Homo sapiens: one gene and its partners. The protein of the gene in region 7 purifies or fractionates together with the protein of the main gene of each other region. This does not show direct contact. Each region holds a gene or a part of one and is shown on either strand. Other genes may lie near its edges.

Region 1 (3,500 bases), on a different chromosome or scaffold from region 7:
TTCTTTGTGAAGTTTAGACAGGAAAGTATGAGAAATTTTTATCTGCCTTGAATACAGTACTAGGATGGTTTTACAATTATCAGTTATCAAACAGTGATCACAGCTTATTGTATTGAAATAGTATTCACTGTTTCAGTGAAAAGTTATATAACGTGTACCGATTATGTACCCACAAAAATTAAAAATAAAGATTTTGTTAAGTCATATAACATTAACATAAAAATTTTTAGTACAGGATTAAAGCCATAGTAAATAAAATAACTGAATAAAAATAAAAGCTCAAATTAAGAAGGCTAAAAAGGGGCCGGGAGCAGTGGCTCATGCCTATAATCCCAGCACTTTGGGAGGCTGAGGAGGGCGGATCACAAGGTCAGGAGATCAAGACCATTCTGGCTAACACGGTGAAACCCCGTCTCTACTAAAAACATAAAAGTTAGCCAGGTGTGGTGGCGCACGCCTACAGTTCCAGCTACTCAGGAGGCTGAGGCAGGAGAACGGCGTGAACCCGGAAGGCGGAGCTTGCAATGAGCCGAGATTGTGCCACAGCACTCCAGCCTGGGAGACAGAGCGAGACTCTGTCTCAAAAAAAAAAAAAAAAAAAAAAAAAAAAAAGAGGAAGGCTAAAAAGGCAAAAAACTCAAAAATTTTAAGTTCTTATTTTCCTAAATTTTAATCTCATATAACCTAAAGGGTTATAGCAGAGGTCAATATACTATGTTGGCCTGTTTTGGCATGGCTCACAAGTTAAGAATGGTTGAATTATTTGGCTATTGGACTGGCCGAATAATTGGCTTGAGGTCTGTATTCACCTCAGGCAGGGCTATACCTCAGAGCTATACCACGTCTGTGGACTATTTTCCCTATTGATTTCCTACCAAGTTTGCTATTGTTAGCAGCAACACACTGGGCTTGGGTATTTAGTCCTGGAATCTGCCCTCTGTATCAGCAAAGCTGCTGATTTTTCTATCCAGTTCCATGCTACTAGTACTACTGTCCCAGACCAAGTCAGTAGTGGGGATGGACGTGTGTGGTATATGTGACTTTAAACTAAAGTTCAGCAGTTTTTCACAAATAAATGCTTCTCAATTTATTTCTCTTCAATTGTTGTATCAGGCCCTGACATGGTTGATTTTGATAATTTTGTCCAGTTTTATGGTTTTAGGGAGAAATTTGCCAACCTCTGCACTTTACAATCATAAAATCTGCTTTTTTAAATATCTAATTTGTTCTCTTACGAAGCTTAATGGCATAACTTATCTAAGAGGTAAAACTTTGAATTTTAATTTTGTTCTTAGTCACAAATAACTATGTTCACCTCAGTTAACTTTCTTCTTAATTTGATTTGTGACAGAATAAGCACCAGAAGCCATGATCACTGACTAATAACTGATCATTGTAAAATCATCCTAGCAAAATACTTATAAACCAAAAAATTACTATATAACCATAGTAGAAAGAAACAGAGGGACAGAACTTCTTCACAGTGTCATACTTACAGAATTTTTTAAACAATCATCATCTACATCAAAATTCGATGTATCTGTTGGGCTACTAACTTCTGGAATATAAGGTGCTTCACAGTTCCGAATATTATCCCAATCAATTCCACTGAAAAATGGGTGTTTCTTAAAGTCTTCTATTCCATTTTGACCAAGTCGATGTTCTCTGCTACAAATGAGCCTTCGAATAAGATCCTTAGCATTTTCAGACACATCAGTCACTTGGGCTGGAAACTGAAACCTCTCCTAAACAGAGAAAAACAGAAACAAAATATAAATCAGTGTTTAACATACTAAGTAGTTGGTTGACTTATTTATTTTCTTAAAAATACATTTTATTTTAAATATATCTAATAACTGCATGTTGGTGCAAAGTACTAATACTAAAGGAATACAGGGATGAATGACAGAAGATCATTTTCCTAGGACTTTTAATTTCATATATGACTCAATCATGCATGCGCTATAGAAAGAAGAATACATTGTACCTTAGATATCTTAAACTGCTATCAGAATGAAGAGAAATTACTTCAAAGTAGTGGAATTTGACTCTATTTAAATCAAGATAGATGATTGATAATGGTCATATAAGTTACATACTAATGATTAACTAATAATAAATATTTTTAAAGGACATAATATGTATCTGACACTATTTAAAGTACGTTACTCATTTAACCCTCAAAACAGTCATTTTAGGTGGGTACTCCTACTATGCTAATATTATAGAAGAAATAAAGACACACAGAATTCAAGTAACTTTCTCAACATTACACATCTAGGAAGTGGCAGAACCAGAATTTGAACTGAAGCTGTAATCTGTGCTGTTAAATATATACTACAATATTTTTTTCTAATTCAAATGATGTACATGCTATTTACAACCCTGCTGCTATTTCCAGTCTTTCAACTCTTTATAACTATATGAAACATTATCTTTGCAAACAGGAAGAAGAATATAAACCCTATAAAACTGATTTTTATACATGTAAAGCAACTAATCATAATTGCTTCACTAGAACAAATTAAAAAGAATAGATTATCATTCCCTTCTATCGGATATTCATATTCTAAGTATTTGCAACTGCTCACAATCTTCTAAGACTGCTAATAAAACCTTTCTTCTTATTATTATGAACAGTCTATTTCACTTAGTACTAAATATATTAACGTTTCATTAATTTGTTCTTGTTGTGTGTCTGTGTTGCTTCTAGTGTTCTGTGATCATAAATAACGTTAGAATAGGTATCCTTGTACATATATCTTTGTTCTACTGAGAATGTCATAGGGTAGATTCCTAGACTGAAGTTGCTCAATCAAAACCTCTAACCATTTTTTAAGGCTCTAGGTGCACACCTGTAAACTTCCTGAACAGAAAGGTTACACCAATTTATATTCCTATTAATGTCTTAGAATGCCCATCTCACTGCATTATTTATGGTACAGAGTACTATTTTTCTTTTGATCTTTGCTAATTTGACAAGAAAAAAAAGTATCTCATCCTTATTTTAAATTTGTATTGCACTTATTACCACTAAAGTTGAAAATTTTTTTACACATATTCTAGTCATGATTATACATATACTATAGTAAGCAATGATCTAAATTCTCTACTTACGACCTTTGTTATTCTACTGGGGAGACCACTTAATTTCCTACTTAGCGGCATCTCTAATAAAATACAAGAAAATTAGAACTAATAACTTATGAATAATTTATGGATTTTGACTATTTATGTTGTCCTGTCCCATACTAGGATAGAAATGTGATTGTTCACTGTTTTTAGAAAAATATTTTCTCTTTAAAAATGGTTTTATTATATGTGTTATTTACCACATTAATTTGAACAAAAGTAAAACATACTAACTTTGTGGTTCATGATTTTTCCGTATGTCTCCACCAGCGATTCTGCATAAAATGGTGTTTCTCCGTAAAGCATTTCATACATACAGACCCCCAAAGACCACCAGTCACATTCAGGTCCATATCTCCCTTTTCCAT
Region 2 (3,500 bases), on a different chromosome or scaffold from region 7:
GTGCCTCTTTCTCTGCTGTTTCCTGAACATCTGAACACTTAAAGATCATTTTATATCTTATGGTGAAAAAAATGTCCCCAGGGTATTTTGAAAATATACACTGTATTTTTAAAAAGCCCCTTCAAAACCACCACCAACTTAGTATTGTTCTACTGGTGTTTCCCTTCTTCCAGAAGATGAAAATCTCACCAATATTCACATGTCTAAAAACTCCTTCCTACTGAAAGCAGAGCAAGTGATTACTTACTGGGAAAATAACTACTGGTACTGTCAGGGTCACAGCCATTAACACAGCCAGACGGACAATGAGAAGAAGAATATCAGTTCCCAAGATAGAAGAGTAGGTATGAAGCAATTCTGACTCAACATGTTCTACAGGGAAAGACCAAAAAAACTTTGATTGGCTGTTTTCATTGGACACCAAGTAGAAAATTTAACAGCAAAATGTGCACCAGTTATTTAGCTACTCACAAAACGACTATAAACTAAGAGGCTAATAAGATTTGTTTGGAATTATAGTTAATGCAATTAAAGTAACATTGAAGGAAAATTTTTCTAAATACCACAGAGATTTAGCCACATGACTCCCATTAAAAACAACAGGAGTTAAGCAGCTAAATCTCCTGGCTTGGCTTGCAATTTGTGTTTGTGTTACATAGTCTGAAGGTGATGGGAGAGGAGACAGGCAATATGAACTCAGAGGCTGGCATATCATACAAATATGCCATCAAATGATTAATGATATTTTCAAACCTGGATTCTAGAAATTACTGATTAAATACACTACAGAAAATTCTAAGCTCTAAATTTAATTTCTCATCACAAATATGAAATATATTAAAACAGACTATTTTTAAAGTGATGGAACTACACATAGAAAACTAGCAGCTTCATTTCAATAAGCGTTTTTTTTTGTTTTTGTTTTTGTTTTGGTAAAGGAGGCGTTACTTACCGTAAAATGTTAGGTATCCAAAGAGGGCGGCAAGCAGATACATGAGAAACATAGCAAAAAATGAAATCTTGGACACATTCATCATTCTTCTACGGCTGCGGCTATGTAATTCAAGAGAAAATTCAAATATATATTTCAGCAGCAGTTACAGCAATTGTCTAATATTTTCTCAAATTTATGTAAAAATGAAATACTCACTCTTTCAGTTCTTCATAGATGGGAAGAACAGCAGGATGACAGACAAATGAAAAGATCAGAATTGGCACAGCATAGACAGTCTGAAAGAAAACGTAAAAATCTACTTAATCTGATGTAACGAACTCATGCTGTCACATTTCCGCAGCATATATTTTATGTAAACAATCTTAGAATCAAAGCCTAAGTTTCCTTTGTGTAATTAGCTTCCATTCTTCTAATCTGTTCATGAAGTATGATCAATATCCTCACTTCTGAATGTGTCAATTATTAGCACCATATGATTATCTCAATTCTCAATCTATTTTCAGATGTAAACCAAAACTTTCTTCACAGTCCTCAATAATTAGCTAATCACATGTTTTCTATAAAGCACCTATTATCCTCCTCCCTTTACCCTGGGAGTGAATAGCTTCCCTCTTTTCTTCCCTAAACTCTTCTTTTGAGAAAATAAGCATATTTAGTTACCTGTGAGTTGAAAATAAAATAGTGAGGTCTGCAAGAGTCATTTTCAGTCACGTTATGTGACAAAGCAGGTACAAGAGCTGTTGGCTGTGTTAAGGTGGTGTTTATTGTTTCGTTAATTATCAAAGCAGCTTCCACAGGACACGGAACCTGAAATTTCTTGCAAATGACCTAAAAATATATTATTTTGCATGTGTTAAACTAAGTGACATGGCAGGGCTTATAAAAAATTTTTTCTAAAAAAAAAATCATACCCACCACAATCAGAAAGAACACCATACACAACAAGGAAAGGCCACTGGTATATCCCAAATATCCTATAAGGAGGGGTGGCAGGAATCAGTATTAGTTTAATGAAACAGATTTAAGGCAAATATCTTTTTCCCACTGAATAACTCAATTCTGCTGGGAAGACTTTAGGCACTAAAGTATGTGTATAGCACTAAATTTCTAATTCTTATGATACTAAATTATAGATTTATTTAAATATACTTGTCATAACCCAAGCTAATAAAAACTATCATTTGCATTATTTCTTACAAAGCACAACATATAGTGTCAATTAAATATTTTGGCTCCTAAATTTTGCATGCTGTAAGTCCCAAAGATATACCTTTCTACTTTCTAGGGCTTTTTCATTCTGATTAATTTCTATTCAGAGAAAGCCCAACTAACTGGTGAGAGGCTCATTTCAATTCTCTTTAGAGATGAGTTTGCTCACCTAAATTTCTAAACAGCGACAAAGGAAGAATGACCACCAATGACACCAACAGAACCAAATAGTTCCCGTTCAGATACCACAATCTAAAGAAAACAGAAACAAGGTCAAAACAGTCACAAATATCCTCTGAAAAATATACACATCTTCTAACAGGACTCATTTCATAGGAATACCATGAAAACAAACACACAAAAAAGACATGTTTGGAAAAAGTTTCCCCTGTTCAAGATAGGAATAACTTTTTAATTTTGTGTGCTAGATGAACATTTACTCAGGTTAGAAGTCGGGTATAAAACAGTGTAACTTTTGTCCCACTACTTGCTCTGGGAAGGCTGCCAGCTGATTCATAACACAAAATGCTTCTCAAAGACTTGATACTAATGCAGGGAACAAAGCTTGTTTGTTAAGCCAGTAATCTTATCTTTAAGCACTTTCAGAAAAATTGTACACCAACTTTGGTACAGCTTTAGCATGTAATTTCTAATGCTGGAAACTAAAAAATTTTAAAACAAGTTTTTTTCCAGATGCGTTAGCAAATATTATTAAATATTTCAATGAGGAAACGTTTTCATAAAATGCACAGGCAAACTGCCCCCCCCATAAAAAAAATTATAAAACTCAGTCCCCCAAACCAGGACTTATTCCAGGTTATCAGAGTATGTTGTGACATCTTGACCCACCTTTAACTCCAAAGACAGCCAAAAATATCCCTTTTGAACTTTAGAAAACATTATGTATATCCTCTAAGCCTTTTTCTTTTTAGGTAAATCATGAATTGCACTGTCTTCTAAATCACTATTTTCAAATTCTAATTGCCTCATGAATTCTGTTCACTTCAGCAGTAAGCACTCTGCAGAACACCAACACTTAAAGATCAGCTTAAAAAATTAAATTTCTAAAGCCACATCTGAGATAACAGCACTTCTCTATTTTGACGTAATGAGCTGCACATAGGGTGGGAAGTAAATTATCCTTCCCCATGTTTACTTTAGATAAATACCTGTGAGTTCACTGGGATGAGTAACTTTGCTAGAAGAAAATGGTTTCTATAGCATGCCCAAACATTTTCTGGCACATGTTGAGTATCCCTTATTCAAAATGCTTGGGACCGAAGTGTTTTGGACTTTGGAGTACCTGCACATACATATTTGAAGTATCTTGGAGATG
Region 3 (3,500 bases), on a different chromosome or scaffold from region 7:
CTTCCCTTCATCCATCCATCCACTCAATAAATATTTACTGACCATCTACTATGAACATTAAAGTTAAAATACTATGAGTACTTTTTTCTTTTTTTACATAGCTTAGATACAAGATTGTTGAAGCTGTAGCCACAGCCATAGAGGAGTGAAATAAAGAAAACAAATGAAATTGGATTATCAAATTCAGCTCCATCACTTAACTATGGGATCTTGAAAAAGCTAACCTTTTTACAGTGCTAGAATTGCTAACTAATAAGAGTTAATTTACATAAAGTTTTGGCACAGAGTAGGCACTCAAAAAACATGTAGAATAAATGAACATTACAATTTTTACAGCCCATTTTAATGACTGAGAGTAGTCTAATTCCTCATTTTCCTATTGAAGGCCATAACTGCTTAAGAAAACATTAAAATTCTATCCAGTGATACTCTATTAAGAGGGGAATTACATAACAAATAATTGTTTGTAAGTTTTGGCACTTAAAGAGATGTGAAATTAGTAATATTAAGAACTCACCTACTCAAAATGATGAATTTTTGAGTTTCAGTTTCAGATAGCCTAGATTCTACAAATAGTCTCAATCACATTTTAAATTTACACCAAGTCCCTGTGTTCTGATTTATTTTAGGCCTAAACTATGTACTTTTAAAGTCTTACAAATTTGCGTATTTTTTCAAATGCCCTTCATCTCTTCACTTACAAATCAGCAAAGATGCATATAAAAACCTGAATTCTCAAAACTGAAACTCATGTAGTAAAAGAAATACTCTTAATTCACTGCTTACAGGAGCATAAATTGGTTTTAAAAACATTTGGGCTCACACCTGTAAATCCTAACACTTTGGGAGGCCAAGGTTGGCAGATCACTTGAACTCAGGAGTTTGAGGCCAGCCTGGGCAACATGGCAGAACCCTGTCACTACAAAAAAATACAAAAATTATGCCGGGCATGGTGGCTCGCACCTACAGTCCCAGTTAACGTGGGAGGCTGAGGTGGGAGGATTGCTTGGGCCAAGATCACGCCCCTGTACTCCAGCCTGGGCAACAGGGTTTTTGAGACCCTGTCTCAAAAACCAAACCAAAATAAAACAAAACCTTTGCAAGAAATTTGGCTATATATCAAGAGTTTCAAAATTGTTCACACTTTTTGATAATTCTACTTCTAAGAATTCTTTCTTCCTTTTATTATATTCCCATTTCATTTCAAAAAAGAATCTCAAGCAACCAGAACCTATCCTGAGGAAATAACCTAAAAAGTATACAAAGATGTTCCCTGGACCACTCTTTATAATGGTGAAAAACATGAAAAACTAAAAGGAAATGGTTAATTGTAGTATGGCATCTCAAATATTTTACAGCCATTAAACAGTATTTATCAAGCAGTTATAACAATATGAAAAAGTGCTTTTGTTTAATTAAGAAAAAAACAGGATACAAGGGTAAATAAAGCATTGGGAAAAATTAAACTTTGCAGAGAAAAAAATGAAACAAAAAACAAAATATTGTCAGTTACATTTGATGGCAGAAAATGCCAGATTTTTCCCTTCAATTCTTTTTTATCTTTTCTGCAGTTTCCAAATATTCCATGTCTATTACTATTACAATGGAAAAAATACACAATAGTTATTATTTTCTAAAATCATGCATCATTTCCCTCTATTTTTAACAAACTGAGTATACTAAAGCTTGTGATGATTACTCACCTGTAGGCATAGATGTTGTGGGTGGCACTAGCTATTTTCTTATTCTCATACAATTTGGAAAGAACCATTTTCACCTTAAAAACAGCAATAATATAAATAAGTATGCTTTTTATATTTGCTCTGTAAATAAATGCTAGAAAAATACCTTGAAGCATGCTGTATTAAAATAAATAGTCACTTAAAGAGTCTACTATACTCTGAAAAAGTCATTTCCAAAGTTTCCTTCTCATTTTAGGGGCAGAGACTGGTACTCATAATTGGTATAAAAATGACAGACCTGGTATTTTTGAGCACTAATTATCAACAAATATTTCGGTACTACTATGTCAAAGGGAAAGTTTGTTCCCCATGTAGGGAATTTTAAATGTATCATATAAAACTTCTAAAAACTAGCTCTGAAATTTACCAAATGTATACATCCAATGTAGCAGGTGTACAATAGTGGTATGTTCCAAATGTTATAAAACCACATCTTTCTCTGGGAGTCAAGTAAGGTTCATAGAGGAGGTCACATGAGCCAGGTCTTATAAGTGGCAGTTCTCCTGCATCAAAAGGAAAGATGGGGCAGGAAGAAGACATTCCACACAGAGAATAGGGCTATATGCAAAATACAGGGACTGGGTGACCAAATTTAGCAAATAAAAGTACAGGACATCCAGTTAAATTTGAATTTCAGATAAACGACAAGTAATTTTTCTACTATAAGTACATCCCATGCAATAATGTTTACCTGAAATTCAAATTTAACTAGGTATTCTGTATTTTATCTGGCAACCTTAGTGGGAACAAAAAAGAGAAAAGTTCAGGAAGCTTTACACAGCTTAACTTAGAGTATGAATGAGATGACAGAAGATGTGTCATGAATGATAAGCTAGGGCCATATTACAAAGGATCTGTGTAATAAGTTTAGATCTTCCCTTGTAGACATTGGAAATCAGCAAAGATTACATGTGTGAAGGTGGATAAGAGAGAGAACAGAATGACACATGGTCAGATTTTTCAGGGATGTTGTAATGGCAAGAAGTATGGAAGAAATATTGGTGGCAGGGAAGACTGAGCTAGAGTTGGGGACACCAATTTGGATCACAAATTGTGCAATCTTCTGTTTATCATTTTATAATCTTTCAGGTTCTCAAATTCTGATCAATAAAATAGACAATGACCTCTAAAACTTGTTTCAGCTCTCACAAATTATAATGCTATAAATCTAAGTGACTGTGATCAGAAACAGAAAGAGGATCCAGAATAAACAGATTCAGAATTAGAATGTCTCAGGAGGACCCTGGGAAGAAGATGTGACTAAGGGCCAGGGACAAAATAGGATTCCTGAGAGAAAAGACCAGAAGTCTGCACCAAAAGTTATGATCTTGACCACAAGTCAACGCAGAAAAGAACTTCCTCTTTCAGAGAGTGAAACAGCCTGGTACAAAGAGCTGTATCCCTGAAGCCCAGGGCTTTAAAGAGCTTCAAGAGTAGGGTAGCTGCAAAGACCAAAGGAAGAGACTCATGCCTAAAACCTGCAGTAAATGAGACATTTTTAAAAATGTAACTTTACAGGTAGTATTGAAATTGCCTCGTACATCAATAATGTAAGCTGAGCTACATTATAGAAGCAAGGAAGAAGAAAAGGATTCTGCTGAAAGGAGAATGAGAAAGGCAAAGACCTAGGAATAGTTTATGGCTGAAACCTCTCCCATTTATATCCCTGGGTGGAAATATGGTCACCTAAGATCAAGAAGCACAAAGGAAAGTAAGTCAGGTAGGGAGGACTTGGTTTAGCCAGTCTGTCCACTGTCC
Region 4 (3,451 bases), on a different chromosome or scaffold from region 7:
TGGGTCAAAATCTGTAGTATAAAGAGGGCATAGGGTCTGGTATTGCTGCATATATCTCTTGATATTTTCACTTCTCACTGTTTCCTCCTTCTCCAGGTCTAACAGCTCAGGATGCTGTTTCTTATTTGGCTGAAGCCATTAGTTTCAACTTCTCCTTTAAAACCTGGAGTGCACCTAAAGTGCTCTTCAATCCTGTCATGGTCTCATTGACTAAGTACTTACTTTTAGTAGAGACAGTTTTCTGTCTGGCATCCTCACTTCTAACTTTCATTGGCCAGACTTCATACTAAAGTACAAAGAGGAAACTGTTTTTAAAACTTTTTGAAATGATAACCAGCTGCTACTTAAAGGCAATAATTGAGTGAGACTTCTACTTTCTGAGAATGTAGCTGGCTAAATTGCTGCAATTTAAAGCATATAGACTATATTACCATTAACTTGCTGAAATGGAACATGAGAAGTATAAACATGGTTTCAAACATATTTAGAAATACAGAAGCTTCTTAAATCAGGTTGTATTTATTAAAAACAAAATACAAAATAACTTGGAATTCAGATTATTGTGATGTTTATCCCCTAACAGGTCAGTCCTAAAGAAAAAGCTAATTGTTTCAAGGGTGGTAACGGAAGAATTTTAAGTAAGGATTATATTAAATACATCTAGTTTGATGCAAACTGAGTTTTATTCAATGTTGGAGGCCTCACTATGTTCCTCTAAGTTTTCAACCATTAACAACCCAAACCGGTTGTTTCCCTCATACCAACACTTGGTGTGTGCAGTGGTTCTCCCTCTGTTCTTAGAACAGCTGGTATTCTGTTTCTTCTGCCTTTTTTTTTTTGAATTTGATCTACCTTTTGGTAGGAATATTTCAGCGGGGGCATATGACCTTGTGGCATTGAATAGATATTCATAAAGTTGCTTAGCCTCAGGACATATGCTCAGGAGACTTTCTACAGAGGTCGATGCTAGCAGTTGCTGGCATAGTCCGTGCACCAGGCTTCCACTGTACAGTCTGTTCAAAGCAAGAAAAAAGTATGTTGTTAAAGAAGTAATTCAGTGCAACAGGATAACTACCATTGACATAGCTTCAACAAATGCATCTAAACAATGAGAGCTCTTATTGCTCTATAATATTATCGAAATTACTTAAGAATAATCTGTTCTTTGAAGGAAGGAACTGAGCTGGTATGACAAAGATTCTTTGCTGGTGATACTTAAAAACTTTTCATCAACAAATTACGTGATGCATGCTTAGTGGTTTTGCAGCTAGCCCCAGACTGAGCAGGTGTCTTTAACAAACACTTTAATTTTAAAGAAAAGGAATTTAAAAGGACCCTGATAAACCAAACAGGCAGTTTGTTAGAATATGAGAAAATTTATTGGCATCATTTGCAAGGTCATTCACTGAGACTAAAAACCTACTTCACAAATAGAAGATGGGATTAATTGGAATCCACAAGTTTATTATGGACAAAGCTGATAAACTGGTACCTTAGCAATCCATGTAGAACCATCATTTAATCAGTGTAACATCTCTGTGTAAAAAGCCTTGGTTATGCTAAGATTCAAGAACAATCCTGCTGTTTAAATCATTATTAAGAGAACTGTTTTGTTTTGCATTTCCTGTTTTGTTTTAAAAGGATTTGTGGTAACTAAAGAGGATCCAGTCAAGAATGGCCTTAAATTATTAAACGAAAGAAATAAAGAATCCAGGGGTCAAAGGCCAATTAGTCTTATTTGTGTTAGCTCAGATATAAGGCCCAGAGATATATTAACAACACTGTTTACTGCCAGGAGGCTTTTTACCTTGAAACATGTAAAGTCCCACCATATTTTGTATGCGTCCATATATCCTCATTCAAAGTATTGAAGGCACTGGGGCTGCAACAGCAAATAAAATAGACAAGCCCCTCCCCCCACAGAGTTTACATCTGAGTGGAGAGACAAACAAAACACAATCTATCTCCTTTTTATCTTCATCTCTCCCTCAAGTACCTCCTGGATGGTCAATTACCAAGATGTCCAATCCATTGATCCTATCACTTTTTTCACTGCTCCACACCCTACTGCTGCTGTCACTTCTTTTTATCATACCCAGCTTAAACTCCACAGACAAACATTATAATTACTCTGTGGCACATAGGCTCAACTCCCTTATTGTCCTTCTTGCCTGGTAAAGCAAACATCCTAGGTTAAGTTCACTTGGGCATCTACTCATCATCTCACTTAGAATGAAAGCTCCATTAGAGCTGAGATTCTGTTTTTGTCCCTACACCCTAGCACAGGGTAGGCATTTAATATCTGAATGAATGAGTAAGCCATATGCCAAGTGGTAAGAAATGCAATTAAAAAAAAATAGAGTAACAGGACTAGAGTGAATGAGGGTAGACAGTGTGTCTCACTAGGGTGGGTTATCAGAAAAAGGCTCTACAAAGTGACATTTAAAGACTGAGAGGAAAGGAGAGAGTTGTATCCTACCAATGATTGCCTCCCCTCTCCCACATATTAATGTATTACTTAAAGGAACTGATTTTTTAAAATTGGATTGAATCATGGAAACATTCTTTGAGAATATGGAAATAATTTAATATTTTTCCCGTTTCCAGCTCTTCAGCTGTAACAGTGACTCAAAATCAATTACATTAAGATTAGTTTTTTTTTGTTTTGGTTTTTTTTTTTAAGTAACTTTGTTGCTTTAAATATAAGTGAAAATACTGTATTTACTTTTGTGTGCTTCCATCTGAACTAAAGTTTCCCATGGTGCTTACCGAGTTAGGTCTGGCTCTGGGAGAGGAGTGGACAGCAGCTGGTTGAGATACATCCCCATCTGGAGACAGGACTGCCACTGACAGAAGATGTGAGCTGTGTCTAAGTCCAGTCTTGTGCCCAGCCGTGTCTGCGCCTTCACTCTTTGGAACTCTGCATACAACATCTTAGCACCATCTTCCTGCAGCTCTTCCTTACCTAAATAAAGAAACAGCCCAAGGGCAGTATTTCTAAAAGCACTGTAACAGCTTTTCATTTTCTCCACATATACTACAAATTCTATAAAGAAAGAAATTAATTTAAAAAAACTAAGATGTTTTTCTCTTCTGGCTTCATAAATGCCTTGCTGTATAAATTGAAATATTGATACTGAACTGTCTTTTTAATGATGACCTAACTTTATTCAACCCATCGGAATTTACTTTTTCCCTGAAATAAGATCTTTTCCACTGGTCTACTACCTGACCATAAACATGTCTGCATTTGAATTCTCTAAACCCTAAATCTGTGTCTATGAAAAATACAAATGACTATTAAATATTATTCTCTTTACTGTTCTCTTTCACCGAAACTCCCAAGCTGTGGTGCATTTGTGTTAAAGAAACAACCTGTGTGTTCAAAACACATTTTGACCTCTGTGTTTTATAGGAGGAAGCTAAAGTATGACTTGGAGAATTTGGCAAA
Region 5 (2,754 bases), on a different chromosome or scaffold from region 7:
AACATTTTTAATTTTTGTAGAGACGGGATCTCGCTATGTTGCCCAGGCTGGTCTCAAACTCCTGGCTCAAGCGATCCTCCCGTCTCAGCGTCCCAAAGAGCTGGGATGACAGGCGTGAGCCACTGCATCTAGCCTCTTCAATCTGTTTTATGTTTAAATAGAGGAAGTGGTAACCACTGGGTTAAGGAAGTCCCAATGGGTGCTCTGCCCTCACGGAGCTCACCGTGTGGGGAGGGAGAGGGACAAGGAGACCAATACCCAGGATAACATCCATCTGGGTGAGAGAGAAGCCAGGGTGCGTGAGCTTGAATTGTGAGGATGAGCTTCTCAGAGGAAGGGCGTCTTGCATTGGGTATTGAAGGGCGAGTAGGAGTTCACCAAGCGAGTGCTTGGCAAAGGGGGCATCCCAGGTAAGGGGAATGGCATGGGTAAAGGCGTGATGAGAAGCCACAGTGTGATTCAGGAAGTGCCAGGGCAGGCTAGGTGGGATGGAGAATGGGCAGAGACCTTGAGTGCCAAGCTGACGGTGTGAGGGGCGGCCACTGCTAAGGTGGTGGAGAGGCCTCCTTAAAGTTGTGGCTCTGGGCCGGGCGCAGTGGCTCATGCTTCTAATCCCGGCACTTTGGGAGGCCAAGGCAGGTGGATCACGAGGTCAGATAGAGACCATCCTGGCTAACACGGTGAAAGCCCGTCTCTACTATAAATACAAGAAATTAGCCAGGCTTGGTGGCACACGCCTGTAATCCCAGCTACTCGGGAGACTGAGGCAGGAGAATCGCTTGAACCTGGGAGGCAGAGGTTGCAGTGAGCCGAGATCGTGCCACTGCACTCCAGCCTGGGTGACAGGGCGAGACGCCGTCTCGAAAAAAAAAAAAAAAAATGTCGTAGCTCTGGGCTGATGTCAAAATGAGGAAAAGAAGTCAAAAGGCACAGATGGCCAGGCACAGAGGCACACACCTGTAATCCCAACACTTTGGGAGGCCGAGGCGGGTGGACCACTTGAGGTCAAGAGTTCGAGACCAGCCTGGTCAACATGGTGAAACCCCGTCTCTTTATTAATAAAAAGAAAATACAAAACCTAGCCAGGTGTGGTAGCACACGCCTGTAATCCCAGCTACTCAGGAGGCTAAGGCAGGACAATTGCTACAGGCTGGGAGCCGGAGGTTGCAGTGAGCCGAGACCGTGCCACTGCACTCCAGCCTGGGCGAAAGAACAAGACCGTCTCAAAAAAAAAAAAGTTACCTAGGTTAGTTCCCAAACCTGTTTCTACAGGTGGTACTCATCATCATTAAACTAAACTAAGGATTGGGAGGCCAAGGCGGGAGGACTGCTTGAGGATAGGAGTTTGAGACCAGCCTAGACAACATACAGACTCGCCTCTAAAAAAAAAAAAAGAAAAGAAAATTAAAAATTAGCTGGCTGTGGTGGCACACACTACACACTTGTGGGTCCCAGCTACTTGAGAGGCTGAGGTGGGAGGATCATTTGAGCCCAGGAGTTGGAGGCTGCAGCGAGCTGTGATCGCGTCACTGCACTCCAGCCTGGGTGACAGAGCAAGACCTCATCTCTAAAATAAAAATAAAATAAACCAAGAAAACGCAAGTGTGGAGATATTCCTTCCTATAAAAGTTAGGGTGAAGGTTTGAAAAGTCTTGATGAAGGTGAATCACGTTAAAACCAAATAAAACACCTGCTATCAAATCAGGTAGAGGCACAAGACTGAGGGAGTAAATCAAAAAAGGTTGGACTGCTTTCAAAGTACCTTTACTCTGTTGATTCATTCAAAAAAAAAAGAAAAGAAGAGAGGAAGTTGTAGACAATGAATTCTGGGAGTGGTTTATGTGAGAACCACAGTGTGAGAACTCTAATCAGAGGACACAGCTTCAAAGAAAATGTCTTTTAGAAAAATGTCTTGGGGCCAGACATGGTGGCTGATGTCTGTAATCCCTGTGCCTTGGCGGGAGAACTGCTTGAGGCCAGGTGCGTGAGACCAGCCTGGGCAACACAGCAAGACCGCATCTCTGCAAAAAGAATTTGAAAAATTAGGGGCCAGGCACAGTGGCTCACGCCTGTAATCCCAGCACTTTGGGCGGCCGAGTCAGGTGAATCACCTGAGGTCAGGAGTTCTAGATCAGCCTGGCCAACATGGTGAAACGCCATCTCTACTAAAAATACAAAAATTAGCCGGGCATGGTGGCAGGCGCCTGTAATCCCAGCTACTTGGGAGGCTGAGGCAGTAGAATCGCTTGAACCCGGGGGGCGAAGGTTGCAGTGAGCCAAGATCACACCACTGCACTCCAGCCTGGGCAACAAGAGTGAAACTGTCTAAAAAAAAAAAAAGAAAGAAAGAAAAGAAAAATTAGCCAGGCGTGGTGGTGCGTGCCTGTGGTCCCAGCTGCTCAGGAGACTGAGGTGGGAGGATTGCTTGAGCCTAGGAGGTTCAGGCTGCAGTGAGCTGGGACTGCATTACTGCACTCCAGCCTGGGCAACAGAGTAAGACCCTGTGTCAAACAAACAAACAAAAAAGGAAGAAAGAACAATCGTTTCTTTTTTTTTTTTTTTTTTTTTTTTTGAGACAGAGTCTCGCTCTGTCGCCCAGGCTGGAGTGCAGTGGCACAATCTCGGCTCACTGCAAGCTCCACCTCCTGGGTTCACGCCATTCTCCTGTCTCAGCCTCCTGAGTAGCTGGGACTACAGGCGCCCGCCACCACGCCCGGCTAATTTTTTGTATTTTTAGCAGAGATGGGGTTTCAC
Region 6 (4,288 bases), on a different chromosome or scaffold from region 7:
TGTGTTTGGGGCCACCTTCTGGTCATCCCCAGGTCAGTTCTGTGGTCTCCACTGGTGACGTCTCTGGAAATCAGGACGCTTTTCCTAGCTCTGTGGAGTGCCCTGCAGGACACCCTGGTGGCCATGTTCGTCGGCAATGCCCACACTGGCCACCACCAGCACAAATGCATGATTCCCCATAGACATTGCTGCAAGGTGCTGCATATGTGTGAATGACTTCTATGTGATGGTATGCACAGGAGAGGAGCATATGGAATTGGAATTTGCAGATCAAATACTCAACAGTGATCCCCATGGGTTTTGATGTGTAATTTTCCAGAGAGATTTGCTTGTGTGAGGCAGAGCTGGAGGGGCCACAGGAGTCACTCTGTAGGGGTGAAGGAGCCTCACTCTGCCTAACACAAGCATGTCCCTCTGGAAAATTACACATCAAAACCCATGGGGATCACTGTTGAGTGTTTTTTGTTTTTTGTTTTTTGTTTTTTTTGAGACGGAGTCTCACTCTGTTGCCCAGGCTGGAGTGCAATGGTGCAATCTCCGCTCACTGCAACCTCTGCCCCACTGGTTCAAACGATATTCCTGCCACAGCCTCCTGAGTAGCTGGGATTATAGGCACATGCCACCACGCCTGGCTAATTTTTGTATTTTAGTAGAGACTGGGTTTCACCATGTTGGCCAGGCTGGTCTCAAACTCCTGACTTCAGGATACATCCACCTCGGCCTCCCAAAGTGCTAGGATTACAGGCATGAGCCACTGTGCCCAATCTTACAGTTGAGTGTTTGATCTGCAAATTCCAAGGGTATGCTCCTCTCCTGCGTGTACCTTCACAAGGCACTCCTTTACTCCGTATACATTTGCACTTCTTGACTTCTTTTTTGAACCAGTTACAACATCTGCCTATTTCTCTCTTTAATGAATAAAATAAAATATTTATCACTTTTATATCTGTATAAAAGTCACGATTTCACCTTTGGCTGAAAATTATCTTTTAACAATGTAATCAAACATTCCCTTTCTAACACTGGCAGTCAGACAGGTAAGAGAGGTGATAAAGTATGGTGAGGGTGTGGTTTTCCTGATTTCACGCCCTAAGGATTCAAATAACTCACAAGTCAGACTTCCAGGCACAACGCAGTTCTCCAACAGAAATAGAGAAAACAGATTTTGACAAGCAAAAGGGACTGGTGCAGTTGGGATTATAACAAGCAGGGAAGTCTAGGAATACATCTCCAGCCTCCTGGGAGAGCCTGAGCCCGGAGGGGGCAGAGAGGAGGAGGAGGGAGGTCTGGGGGAAGAGAGGTCTGCAAAGTAGGGGAAGGGAAGGCCAGGAGGGAGGGAGGCGCAGCGGGGAGGAGAGGAGAGAAGGGAGGAATACATTTCTGGAAGCTTTAGAAATTTAGAAATAGAAACCACGTGGAAGTGCATCCAGGGCTCAGGGTTACAGAGGACCCCAAGACAACACAGGAAAGTGGGGTCTAATGGGAAAGGCAGGAGGTTTCTCCTTTACTGCTTAAACATTGTAGGAACTTGCATGGCAAGTGATTTTCAATCTTGCAGCAGGGAAGGCAGGGCCAGTACTTATCCTTAGATGATTCTACAAACATCAAACTTCTCCAAATATTTATTTTTCAGCAGCCATGCTTGTATTTTCCAAGTGTCTATGGTCGAGATAGCATGAATTAGGAAGCTACCTGGATGAGCCCACAATGGCCCTCTTAGACATGCCAACGACGCCCCTGCAGAATCTGCTTTTTCTCTGGCTGTTCCTAGGCCTGGATAGGGTTCCCAGGCCTGGACAGGATTCCCCGGATACCGGCGAGGCTCATTACTAACCACTTTATTTTAAATGGGCTTTGAAAACAACAGGTGGCATCTTCCATCAGCAAGTGGACATAAATCTCAGTGCCCAGTGTTTCCAAGGCCTGCCCGACCCACATGGCTGTGGGGTGTAAACTGTCCAGTCGTTCCTGGCACACCTACCCAGCATTTAGGATGTCCCACTCTTAGATCCATAGACCCAGCACCTCTCTTCTTAATACCCACCCTAAAGAAAAGCTGTCGAATGTGGATGCTGATTTAGTTGCAAATATGCTCAGTTTTTTAATAGTTTTATATTAGTAAAAACGCTACAACCAGAATGTCTCACTGCAGGAAGAGAGTTACAAGGAGTATTTAACGGCATGGTGGAAAGGCTCCTCCGTGCTAAATGGCCAAAACGAACGCAAGTTTGCATACGGTGTGATTTCCACTATGTCTTTAAAATGCATGGCGAAACACCTACAGGAAAATACCAAAATGTAAACAGCGGCTGCTTCGGACGCATGGGATCGTGGAGGCTGCTGTTCTGCAAGGACAACGTATCACTTTTATGAAAGTCAGCTTCTGAAAACGGACTATGGGAAGTTCCTTACCCGTGCACGCGGCAAAGACCTTCTTTGCCATAGTCAGAACACACGCGGGAGTTCAGAGGAGCGGGGCCCGGGCTTGTGTGGGCTTGTGTGCCCCGGGGACGCGCACGTACCTTGTCCCGCGGCCTGAGACTGCGCTGCACCGCGCGGAGGCCGAACCCAGAGGAGGCGGCGTGGCGCCGGGCGGGGACGCGAGAGGGACGTGGACGCGGCGACCGAGGACGCGGGGATCCTGCGGGACCAGTGGCTCCAGTCGTAGCCTCCTGGGAGAGCCAAGCCCGGAGGGGGCGGAGAGGTGGAGGAGGGAGGCCTGGGGGAAGAGAAATCTGCAAAGTCGGGGAAGGGAAGGAAGGCCAGGAGGGAGGGAGGCGCAGTGGGGAGGAGACGAGAGAAGGGAGGGAGGGAAGTGTGAGGGGAGGGGAAGAAGTGGGGTGGTCGGAGGGTGGGGTAGGGAGGAAGAGGGAGGGAGAGATGGGAGAGGCTCCAAGATAAAGAAAGGTGCAGGGAGAGGGGGTGGGAGGGAGGGAACCGCAGAGAGGAAGGGAGAAGAGAATCAGGCAGCCTTGAGGGAGGAGGCAGGGAGGCCAGGAGAAGGAAGACAGCCAGCCTTCTGTGAGATTTACGTGCGTGCCTGGCTTCCAAGACAAGTAACTTCTGTTGTAAATACAAATTAAGCTATTTTTTGTTTATTTTATTTTATTTTATTTTATTTTATTTTATTTTATTTTAGAGATAGGGTCTTATTCTGTCACCCAGGCTGGAGTGCAGTGACACAATCATAGATCACTGGAGCCTCGAACTCCTGGCTTCAAGTGATCCTCCCCTTCAGCCTCCCAAAGTGCTGGGATTACAGGTGTGAGCCACCATGCCCAGCCACAATTTTTTTTTTTTTTTTTTTTTTTTTTGAGATGGAGTCTAACCCTGTTGCCGAGGCTGGAGTGCAGTGGCACGATCTCAACCTCAACCTCACTGCAACCTCCACCTCCCGGATTCAAGTGATTCTCCTGCCTCAGCTTCCCCAGTAGCTGGGATTATAGGCACGCGCCACCACGCCCAGCTAATTTTTGTGTTTTCAATAGAGACGGAGTTTTACCGTGTTGGCCAGGCTGGTCTCGAACTCCTGACCTCAAGTGTTCCACCTGCTTCGGCCTCCCAAACTGCCGAGATTACAGGCGTGAGCCGCCGCACCCGGCCCCAGCCCCAAATTAAGCCTTTTTTTAAAAAAGAAATTAATACACGTTTCATACTTGCCTCCTTCGTATTTTCTCTGGTCATCTGCCCAAGGTTATGACAACAGCTTCAACTTGGCTGCAGAAGCACACCCCTGTGGCTCACTCAAACTGGAAACATACAGGAAAAGGGAATTCTAGGAATATAGCTCAGCCTGGACAAATGGGCACATTAAAAAGCCATTGCACCGTGGTGGCCGCACTTCCTGCCATCCCCACTGCAAAGGTGTTGTTATGGACTGAATGTTTGTGTCCCCTCCAAAATTTGTACGTTGAAATCCTAACCACCCCGCCCATGGTGGTATTTGGAGGCGGGGCCTTTGGGAGATGCTTAGGTCATGAGGGTGGAGCCCCCAAGAATGGGATTTGTGCCGTTACAAAAAGAGGCAAGGGAGCTTGCTTCCTCATCTGTATGCCAGGAAGAGGATACTCACCAAGAACCCAATCCTGCTGGCCCATCCCAGACTTCCAACTTCCAGAACTATAAGAAATAAATGTTGTTTAAGCTACCCAAGTCTATCTATGATGTTTTTGTTGTTGTTGTTGCTGTTGCTGTTTTTGAGACAGAGTCTCGCTGTGTCGCCCAGGCTGGAGTGCAGTGGTCCCATCTCGGCTCTCTGCAACCTCCGCCTCTCGGGTTCAAGCAATTC
Region 7 (3,500 bases):
AATACCACATTAAGATATACGCAAAATTTCCCACACAAAATACTAGCCAATATATAAAACAGGATAATACATCTGACCAAGAATGGTTTATTCTAGGAATATAAAGTCTGTTTAGCATTCAAAAATCAATCCAGGCAATTAACCATATTAAAAGAATAAATGAAGAGAAACTTTTATCTCTACAGATGGGAAAACAGCATTTGACAAAATCCAACGTCCATCTGTAATAAAAATTCTCAGCAAAGTGTAATGAATGCAAACTTCCTCATCCTGATAAAGGGCACTTACAAAAAATCTATCGCTAACAACAAACTTAACAGGAAAGACTCAATCTAAGATGAGCAGCAAAATGAGTAATAAGAAGAGGATTTCTGCTTCCCCACTTCTAGTAACATTGTATTAAAGGTTCTAGCTGGTGTAATTGGGTGTGAAGGGGGAAAGGGGATGGGGGAAGAAAAAAGGAGGGGTAAGGGAAAGAAAAAGGGAAGAGAAAAGGAAAGGAAAAAGAAAGGTAAAAGGGAAGGGAAGAAGGGAAAGAAAGAAGTGGAGGGGAGAGGAGGGGAAAGAAAAGGAAAAAAAAAATGGAAAGAAAAAAAGGAAATGAAAAGACAAAAGTCATCCAAATTGGGAAGGAAGAAATAAAATTTTCTTTATTTAGAAACAACATGAACATACGCATACAAAATCCAACAAATCTACAAAAAATTAATGTATACTAACAAAATGCTAATCAGAGGTTACTTGGAGGTGTGATGGGAGGGAGCACTTACAAGGAGCCTCAAGGAAACTTTTGAGGGTAATGGTTATACTCACTATCTTGACTGTAGTGACAGTTACATAAGTGTATGCACATGTCAAAACTTATCAAACTGCGTATCTAAAATATATGCAGTGTTTCATTATGCCTAAATAAAGCAACTAAAAATATTTACAATAGCATCAAATAACATAAAATGTTTATAAATATATTTGACAAAAGACACGAAAGGCCTCTACATTGACAAGTATAAAATACTGCTAAGACATTAAAGACCTAAATAAAATGAAGAATACTGTGTTCATGGATTAAGACTCAATATTGTCAAGATGTCAATTCTCTCCAAACTGATCCACAGATTTAATGCAATCCCAGTCAAAATCCCAAGATGCTGTCTTGTAGAAACTGGCAAGCTGATTCTAAAATTTATGAATATGCAAAGGACCTAGAAAAGCCAAAATTTTCCTAGAAAAGCAAAACTGGAGAATTCACACTACCTAATTTCAAGAATCATTATAAAGCTACAGAAATAGAGAGTATTGTGTTGGAATAAGGACAAATAGGTCAAAGGAAGAGAATAAAATCCAGAAATAGATCCACATATACACAGCCGTTTGTAAAGCACCAAAACAACAGGGAAAGGAAAGTCTTTTCAATAGATAATGCTGAAATAACTACTTATGTAGTTAAAAAAAAAAAAATGTATGGAAGCTAAAAAGAAAAAGAAAAAAGTTAACCTGGGTCCCTATATCAACTGCACACAAAAACTGTTCAAAATGGACCACAGATATAACTACTCAAATGAAAACTAAAATTTCTAGAAAAAGTAAGACAAAAACTTTGGGGAAGGCGAAAGTTTCTTAAAGAGAACACACACACAAAAAAATTCACCAAAGAAGAAAAGAAAATGTTAAATTGAATGTCTTTAAATTTTAAAATGTCTGATCATCAAGACACTATTAATCTGATAAAGGATTTGTATACATAAAGATTTCTCACAAAACACTAATGAAACAACCTAATTTAAATGGGAAAAAGATCTGAAGAGACACTTTACAAAGAAAGTAGAAAAATGGCCAAGAATACTTGAAAGAGTGCTCATTAGAAAGGGCAAACTAAAACCACAACAGGATACCATTACACATCCACTAGAAATAAAAAGTTCCATTATCAAGTGTTAGCAAAGAGGTAGAAGCACTGGAACCTACATACATTGCCACTGCTGGGATAGCCACTTTGAAAAACAGTTTAGTAGTTACTTATAAAGTTAAACTTATACAGTTTGTATTCCTAGGTATTTACCAAAGAAAAATGAAAACACAAGTTCACAAAAAGGCTTGCACATGAATGTTCAAAGCAGCATTATTTATAATGACCTCAAACTGTAAACTACCTAAATGTCCATCAAACGACAAATGGAAATGTGGCATATCTGCACAACAGACAACTATTTAGCAATAAAAAGGGAAAAACTACTGATGTATGACACACGACAAATCTCAAAAACATCATGCCAATCCAGGAGTCAATAAATTTTCTCTGTAAAGAGCTAGACAGCTAATATTTTAGGTTCTAGAGACCCTATAGTCTCCTCACAACTACTCAACTCTGCCATTATAGTGCCACAACGGATGTAGTAAATAAATAAACCAATAAGCACGATTGTGATGCAATAAAACTTTATGGACAGTGATGTTTGAAATTCATATAATTTTTATGTTATGTGACATTATTCCTATTTTGATTTTTCTTCCACTATTTAAAAATATAAAAACAATTCTTAGCTTGTATCTAAGTACAAAAACAGGTAATACAAAAACAGGCCATTGTTTGCCAACCCTTGCATTAGAAGGAGGCATGATAATCAACACAATACTTTTCTTGTACTTACCTCAGTATTTGGAGCAACTAAGGAAAATTCATGAGACAGATCAAGCTTAATGCCATCGAAATTTATTTCTGAAGGCCTTGCAATTGGGTCAGCACTAAAAACATAAGATGGTCGAGGTACTCCCTCTTGATTAAAATTAGATTCCATTCTGCAAGAATAACAGCAACTTCTTTAACAACCTTAATAAGTCAGCATGTAAGCCACCCACACTTTCAAAAGTCTAGCCCACTACTTCCCTCCAAATAACTAGATTTTAGAAAAGAAACGCATTACATTGCTTCATTTATAACACAATGCCCTACAGGAAAGACTAAAGATCAAATTATATTTACAGACTCTGATTCTAATAATACTGAACACAGCCTACTATTTTCATATAATATCCATTCAAAGAGGTTTCGTGAGTACAGGTAATCTGTAAAGATGGTATAAAATATTTACTCTCTCCGTGAAATCCTCTCAAAACTCAAATAGTAAGGAGATCACAGGGTAAATTATAACCTTGTGTCATCTACTTAGTGACTCCTGTAGAATGTTACTTACAGACTTTGTTTTAGCATTTAAAAGTTAAAACTCAGTTATCTGGGTCTGGTGCGGTGGCTCACGCCTGTAATCCCAGCACTTTGGGAGGCCAAGGCGGGTCGATCACGAGGCCAGGAGTTCAAGACCAGCCTGGCCAAGATGGTGAAACCCCGTCTCTACTAAAAATACAAAAAAAATTAGCCAGGCGTGGTGCCAGGCACCTGTAATCCCAGCTACTCGGGAGGCTGAAGCAGAAAATTGCTTGAACCCGGGAGGCAGAGGTTGCAGTGAATCGCGATCGCGCCACTGCACTCAAGCCTGGGTGACAGA

Evidence for each region.
Region 1: the proteins of KIF20B (region 7) and CDC42BPA purify together in Homo sapiens (affinity purification with mass spectrometry; one large-scale study listed by BioGRID and IntAct). This does not show direct contact.
Region 2: the proteins of KIF20B (region 7) and SLC38A2 purify together in Homo sapiens (affinity purification with mass spectrometry; one large-scale study listed by BioGRID and IntAct). This does not show direct contact.
Region 3: the proteins of KIF20B (region 7) and IMPACT purify together in Homo sapiens (affinity purification with mass spectrometry; one large-scale study listed by BioGRID and IntAct). This does not show direct contact.
Region 4: the proteins of KIF20B (region 7) and ASTE1 purify together in Homo sapiens (affinity purification with mass spectrometry; one large-scale study listed by BioGRID and IntAct). This does not show direct contact.
Region 5: the proteins of KIF20B (region 7) and YJU2 purify together in Homo sapiens (affinity purification with mass spectrometry; one large-scale study listed by BioGRID and IntAct). This does not show direct contact.
Region 6: the proteins of KIF20B (region 7) and CMBL purify together in Homo sapiens (affinity purification with mass spectrometry; one large-scale study listed by BioGRID and IntAct). This does not show direct contact.

What each region holds. Positions count from the first base shown.
Region 1 is NC_000001.11:227,143,993-227,147,492, forward strand, and holds part of CDC42BPA (serine/threonine-protein kinase MRCK alpha), read right to left. Parts: coding exon 3,367-3,500; intron 1,746-3,366; coding exon 1,497-1,745; intron 1-1,496. UniProt on the Homo sapiens protein: Serine/threonine-protein kinase which is an important downstream effector of CDC42 and plays a role in the regulation of cytoskeleton reorganization and cell migration. Regulates actin cytoskeletal reorganization via phosphorylation of PPP1R12C and MYL9/MLC2.
Region 2 is NC_000012.12:46,362,774-46,366,273, forward strand, and holds part of SLC38A2 (sodium-coupled neutral amino acid symporter 2), read right to left. Parts: intron 2,417-3,500; coding exon 2,334-2,416; intron 1,930-2,333; coding exon 1,871-1,929; intron 1,784-1,870; coding exon 1,616-1,783; intron 1,231-1,615; coding exon 1,151-1,230; intron 1,054-1,150; coding exon 953-1,053; intron 373-952; coding exon 248-372; intron 1-247. UniProt on the Homo sapiens protein: Symporter that cotransports neutral amino acids and sodium ions from the extracellular to the intracellular side of the cell membrane.
Region 3 is NC_000018.10:24,443,670-24,447,169, reverse strand, and holds part of IMPACT (protein IMPACT), read right to left. Parts: intron 1,778-3,500; coding exon 1,704-1,777; intron 1-1,703. UniProt on the Homo sapiens protein: Translational regulator that ensures constant high levels of translation upon a variety of stress conditions, such as amino acid starvation, UV-C irradiation, proteasome inhibitor treatment and glucose deprivation.
Region 4 is NC_000003.12:131,013,375-131,016,825, forward strand, and holds the end of ASTE1 (single-strand DNA endonuclease ASTE1), read right to left. Parts: intron 3,339-3,451; exon of another isoform or gene 2,966-3,338; coding exon 2,770-2,965; intron 1,883-2,769; coding exon of another isoform or gene 1,808-1,882; intron 1,014-1,807; coding exon 683-1,013; 3' UTR 501-682; downstream 1-500. Other genes in the region: ATP2C1 (calcium-transporting ATPase type 2C member 1), read left to right, coding at 2,778-2,873. UniProt on the Homo sapiens protein: Structure-specific DNA endonuclease that specifically cleaves single-stranded DNA and 3' overhang DNA.
Region 5 is NC_000019.10:4,264,080-4,266,833, reverse strand, and holds part of YJU2 (splicing factor YJU2), read right to left. Parts: intron 1-2,754.
Region 6 is NC_000005.10:10,305,103-10,309,390, forward strand, and holds the start of CMBL (carboxymethylenebutenolidase homolog), read right to left. Parts: upstream 2,801-4,288; 5' UTR 2,523-2,800; exon of another isoform or gene 2,413-2,522; intron 1-2,412. UniProt on the Homo sapiens protein: Cysteine hydrolase. Can convert the prodrug olmesartan medoxomil into its pharmacologically active metabolite olmerstatan, an angiotensin receptor blocker, in liver and intestine. May also activate beta-lactam antibiotics faropenem medoxomil and lenampicillin.
Region 7 is NC_000010.11:89,704,590-89,708,089, reverse strand, and holds part of KIF20B (kinesin-like protein KIF20B), read right to left. Parts: intron 2,797-3,500; 5' UTR 2,796-2,796; coding exon 2,649-2,795; intron 1-2,648. UniProt on the Homo sapiens protein: Plus-end-directed motor enzyme that is required for completion of cytokinesis. Required for proper midbody organization and abscission in polarized cortical stem cells.